2 separate regions of the Homo sapiens genome follow, and region 1 is linked to region 2. The links come from fine-mapping of genetic effects on gene expression. A gene starts in region 2. The other region holds a variant in brackets. All regions are shown on one strand. Distances are between the middles of the regions. Region 1 has its middle 36 kb from the start of NDUFA12. Region 2 holds the start of NDUFA12 (NADH:ubiquinone oxidoreductase subunit A12).

What was found. PIP is the estimated chance that this variant, and not a neighbour inherited with it, causes the effect.
Region 1: its variant is the best candidate, but not a certain one, in a credible set for the expression of NDUFA12 in blood mononuclear cells (TOPMed, PIP 0.89).

What each region holds. Positions count from the first base shown.
Region 1 is chr12:94,966,707-94,969,625 of GRCh38, reverse strand. No RefSeq gene overlaps it. Among named protein-coding and RNA genes, the nearest start is that of NDUFA12, 36 kb to the left of the region's middle. The variant G/C (reference allele first, on the strand shown) is at 1,691.
Region 2 is chr12:95,002,531-95,005,449 of GRCh38, reverse strand. NDUFA12 (NADH:ubiquinone oxidoreductase subunit A12) reads left to right here and starts at 1,753. Exons shown (of 4, transcript NM_018838.5): 1 at 1,753-1,855; 2 at 2,629-2,711. The coding sequence starts at 1,770. RefSeq lists enhancers at 1,631-2,030, 1,495-2,122.

The DNA of each region.
Region 1 (2,919 bases), 36 kb after region 2:
AGTTATTTTGAAACTTCCTCATTCATAAGAAACTAGTCTACTACAGCCCTATGTCCTGAGTATCCCTTACTTAGCTGGATCAGGTTGAATTCAGTGCCTTCAAGAGACTATTCAGTGTGCTGTTTTGGCTTTTTGAGCCCTGGACTTTTGAGACAGCATATAACATACAGGTGTTTTGCACTTATTTATTTACCTGGTGACCTGAAAAGCTGGCAGAGCAAAAATAGTCCCTGTAGGTGGCCCAGTCTGCAGTCCAAGCAGCTCTGCTGCTCAGCCCTCTCAAAGTCTATCTGGCTGATTGGGAGACTTATTGAAGTCAGAGACAAATTTCTCCAGGAGAATCACAATGGAAGCCCACAGGACTTTGGAGCAAGGTCATACCCCCTTCTGGAAGATTACTATTCTCCTTTTGAGAAACGGTTCTAATTTGCTTCTGGGGATGTTGGAGGCTATGGGACACCAGGTGCTATTTAATCCATCTACTCATAAAGTTGACCATTTCCAGCAGCACTCCATCACCTAGCAGGTGGGACCAGACAGGCCATGAAGACACATTTCCTTTGAACAGATTTCTCCCGACCCTGTGCCTTTAACTACTCTATTCCCACACCTCGCCCCTACCAATCTGTCCCTTTACCCTTGTGGAGCATTATTATCCAGTTAACTGAAAATGAAAAAAACCAAACCTGGCTTACAGATACCATGAACAATAGGCACTATCAGCTAGAAATGTACTGTGTATATTTGGGGTGGTCTTGAAGGACAGTAGAGGGCAAATCTCAATTTGTAGGCAGAATTCCAAGCACTGTCTTTTATCATGTACTTTGACTTGAGAGAAACATGATCTGAGGTGAGGATCTGTAACCGTAACCAGTCACTGGCTAGATAGTCAGAGATGGAGAAAAGCAACATGGAAGATTAGTGTAAAAGTTTTGGGAGGAGCTTGGCAAATGAACCTTGAGGCTTGGAGCTGTAATCCAAAAAGATTTAGAACAAAGTAGCCAGATGATTACTGAGATCACCTTCTGGGAACAAATCTTTGTCTCAGTGCCTACTTCTTGAAGATCCCAACAGAAAACACATATCTAAGCCCAGTATCGTCAATGCGGCAAGTTCATTTCACGGGACTTCTTCCATATTGGAGGGAGAGATGATTTGTTTTTGTGGGAATAGGCACTTATTCTGAATTTGGGTCTGTTTTCCTTGCCTATCATGCCTTGGTCAACATCAGCATTCATGGGATTAGAATGCTTTCTACCTTGTCATATGTAGGACAGTGTCCGTGGTGGAGAAACTCACTTCACAGAAAAGAAAAGAGGCCTAGTGCAGTGGCTCACACCTGTAATCCCAGCAGTTTGGGGGGCCAAGGCAGGCGGATCACCTGAGGTCAGGAATTCGAGACCAGCCTGACCAATATGATGAAACCCCGCCTCTACTAAAAATAGAAAAATTAGTCAGGTGTGGTGGCATGCGCCTGTAATCCCAGCTACTTGGGAGGCTGAGACAGGAGAATCACTTGAATCCGGGAGGCGGAGGTTGCAGTGAGCCATTGTACTCCAGCCTGGGCAACAAGAGTGAAACTCCCGTCTCAAAAAAAAAAAGACAGTGGAACTGCCTGTGGGAGTCCCTGCTTGTGTTTATGATGTGCCTTACTGACCTACCTCTCAGATATCATCTCTCATTTCTCCCT[G/C]CATCACCCACTACAGGTCAGCCACACAAGCCTCTGTCTAATCTTCAAAGACTGGATTCATTCTCGTCTTAGGTCTTTGCACTTGCTCTTCCTTCTGCCTAGAATATTAACATCTTTGTGTTGCTCCTTTTTTTGGTATCATTCATATCTTACTTTACAAGTATCACCTCCTCAACAGAATGTTCTGTGTCCATCTAATCTAAAGTAGCTTCCTCAGGAACTTCCTATTATTGTTTATTTGTATGAATTTCCTTGTTTTATTTTATTCATAGTACTTATTGTTACTTTTTGGGAAAAGGCCTGAACAAAATTATTCCAGTAAAGAATCTGTGTATTGAGCATTTACTAAACAGCCACTGTCCACCTACAAAAGCACTCTACATGTAGACATAATGAAGCAAAACTGTATTGATTAGATTTAGGGCAGGGTGCAGTGGCTCACGCCTGTAATCCCAGCACTTTGGAAGGCTGAGGCAGGCAGATCATCTGAGGTCAGGCGTTTGAGACTAGCCTGGCCAACATGGCAAAAACCCGTCTCTACTAAAAATACAAAAATTAGCCATGCATGGCGGCACATGCCTGTAGTGCCAGCTACTCAGGAGGCTAAGGTAGGAGAATCGCCTGAATCTGGGAGGCAGAGGCTGCAGTGAGCTGAGATCACGCTGCCGCACTCTGGCCTGGGCCACAGAGAGACACTCTGTCTCAAAAAAAATAATAATAATTTTTGTTGGAGGTGAGATAGTGACTGAAATTAAACAGCGGCAGCCCAGAACAGTAAATTCTGAAGTTTCAGAAAGTAAGAATTCTTGTGGGAAATAACATCTAAACATGCAAATAGTTATACATAGGAAATTTCTAAAGTTTCATTAAGCAATTTTTACAGGAAAAAAAGAACACTAATTACCATGATGTCATGCTGTGTTTCCAAAAAATTGGTGATCATTTCAAGGGTTTGCAATCACTTGTGTGATCAGCTTGCAAAGACCTGTCGGTCTATATCCCCGCTTTCAAGTCATCCTTCTATGAATGGAGATGTCCTGTTCCTAACATTCTTCTCAAATACAAGTTAATTCATACACTGGTGCCAAGTGCCCATAGTATGAAATGCACACATCATAAGAGCATAGTAATGGAGCCATATTTATCAGCTCTGGCTCCAGGAAGTTAATGTCTGTGTATATTTTTTGTTTTTTAGGCCGAGTCTCACTCTGTTGCCCAGGCCGGAGTGC
Region 2 (2,919 bases):
ATCGCACCGCTGCACGCCAGCCTGGGCAACAGAGTTAGACTCCGTCTCAGAACAAACAAACAAACATACAAACAAACACAGAAAATATGTAGTGTTGGTGAGGAGGTGGAGAAATTGGAACCTTTGTGCATTGTTGTTAGTAATGTAAAATGGTGATGCTGCCATGGAAAACAGTATGGGGATTCCTATAAAAATAAAAAATAAAATTTCCATATGATCTAGCAATCCACTTCTGGGTATATATCCAAAAGAACTGAAAACAGGATCTTAGAGATATCTGCACACCCGTGTTCACTGCAGCATTATTCACAATAGCCAAGAGGCGGAATCAGCAGAAATGTTTATGGACAGGTAACTGGGTGGCATATACATACAGTGGAATATTATTCAACATTTATAAAAAGAAGAAAATCCTGTCATATACTACACTATGGATGAGCCTTGTGGATATCATGCTAAGTGAAATAAGCCAGGTCCTAAAAGACAAACACCTCATGATTCTACTTATATGAAGTATCTAAAGTAGTTAAACTCTTAGAAACAGAAGTAGAATGGTGGTTGGCAGGGGATGGAGAAAGAGGAAAAAGTTGTTCCATGGATATAAAGTTTCTGTTTTGCAAGAAGAATAAGTTCTAGAGATCTGTTGCGCAACAATGTGCATGTGGTTAACACTACTGTACACTTAAAAATGGTTAAAATGGTAAATTTTATATTTTGTGTTTTTAACCACCACTACCAAAAAAAAAAAAAAAAAGCTAGGGAACTAAATTGTTATTTTGAAAACACACATAAGGGAAAGAATCGGCTGGGTGTGGTGGCTTACACCTGTAATCCCAGCATTTTGAGAGGCTGAGGCAGGAGGATCACTTGAGGCCAGAGTTCAAAACCAACCTGGGCAACATAACAAGATGCCCATCTCTAAAAAAAAAAAAATTAGCCAGGGGTGGTGGCACTTACTTAAATGGGAGGACTGCTTGAGCACAGGAGTTTGAGGCTGCAGTGAGCTATGATCACACCACTGTATTTCAGCCTGGGTGACAGAGAGCCTGTCTCTAAAATTAAAAAACAAAAAAAAAGTAAGAGAATCAAGCACCCATACTGCCTTTCCTACATTAATTGTATCTCAGGAGCCAAATAGTTGAAGGGAGGTTTCTCTTTGTAGAAGAATTGTGGTTAACAAATGAAGTAATATTGAAATTTTTTAGGCTCAAGCGATGCTCCCATCTAAGCCTCAGCCTACCGAGTAGCTGGGACTACGGGCACGCGCCACCACATCCAGCTAATTTTTAATTTTTTTTTTTTTTTTGTAGAGACAGAATTCTCGCTGTGTTGGCGAGGCTGGTCTCGAACTCCTGGGCTCAAACGATCCTCCCTACCCGGCCTCCCAAAGTGCTGGGATTACAACAGTGAGCCACCGCGCCCACCAGAGCCAATTATTTTTAGATGAGGAAACTGAAATTCCCAAAGGGGGAATCCCCGTGTGAGAAAGCCTCGTGTAGGTGAGCTTTCCAGCATATGCCCGCCTTCTAGATTTAACCTCTGAAAACTAAATTTTAAGGTACCTTTGCTTCCAGGGGAAACCAATTCTGCCTACTTGGGAAGCCAGAACATGACCGCGTAGGCAAGACCTAGCTCTGCGCACGCGCAGAGCCACCACGTCTGGCGTTCGCGTGAGAACCTTCTGGGCGTGGGCTTCCTGCGGCTGAGTGGCAGCTTCCATCCGGTGGGTTTTGCTCGGCGCACCCGGGAGGCGGGGCCAGCGAGGCAAGATGGAGTTAGTGCAGGTCCTGAAACGCGGGCTGCAGCAGATCACCGGCCACGGCGGTCTCCGAGGCTATCTACGGGTTTTTTTCAGGTAGGCGGCCAGAGCCATGCTCTTGGCCTCTGGGGCTGGACTTTCGCTGGCTGATTTCTTGGAAGGGGTCCCAGGCTCGGGTCACCTTGGAGAATCCACAGCTCTTGTCAAGGACAACCGCCCCAATCTCTGCCTTGCCACCCCCAGGCTGGTCTCTGTCCCATATATCCCCGATACAAGACCGAAGCTATCTGTAGAGTCAGAGCTGTGACTCGGAGGCAAGGGCATCTGGGCTCCCCTCTTTTCCCACGCCCTGGAGAGTAATGAGGATTACAAGACATTAACTCAGTGACCCTGGTAAAGTTTTTTTCCCTGCACTGCCGTACAGTTCCTTGTCTGTAAGGCGTTGAAGGTAATAATGATGGTCCCTTCTCTTCCTGACATTCACTGATCCCACGAGCAGCATAGTTTCGCAGAAACCTAAATGGAGACCCAGAGTGGAATGAAAGAGCCTGGAGACCTTCGTATCATTGTAAGAAGATGAAATACTTTGGCTTTTTGATTTCCTAAAGGTTTTGCTAATTCCAGTGCCTCCTGGCTGAGGGATAGTAGATACAAGTAGTCCTGTAATCTGAAGAGACTACATTTATATTTTTAGTGTAATTTGAGCACATCAGTTGTCAATTCATCTTTTCCCATCCCCAGCACTTCTTCATTTTGCTAGTTGATGCAGCAGCCCTTGTGTCTGAAAGTTGTTACTCTCACTTTATTTCCGTTTATGTTTTGAACTAAGAATCATTCTAAAATGTCTGTTTTCTTTTGGGTATTCACAGGACAAATGATGCGAAGGTTGGTACATTAGTGGGGGAAGACAAATATGGAAACAAATACTATGAAGACAACAAGCAATTTTTTGGTGAGTGCAGTATTTTTTAGTATGAATAATTGGATTGGGATTGGGATTTGATTTGAGTCTATTTTCCATATTATGCAATGAGCTTTTACAAAACACCTGGAAAAGGATGAAAAACTCAATAGAAAATGAAAAAAGATAATTTACAGAAAAAAGAAAAGTAAACAGCCAATGAAGGTATGGAAAAATGCTCATTCTCACTTGTAACAAC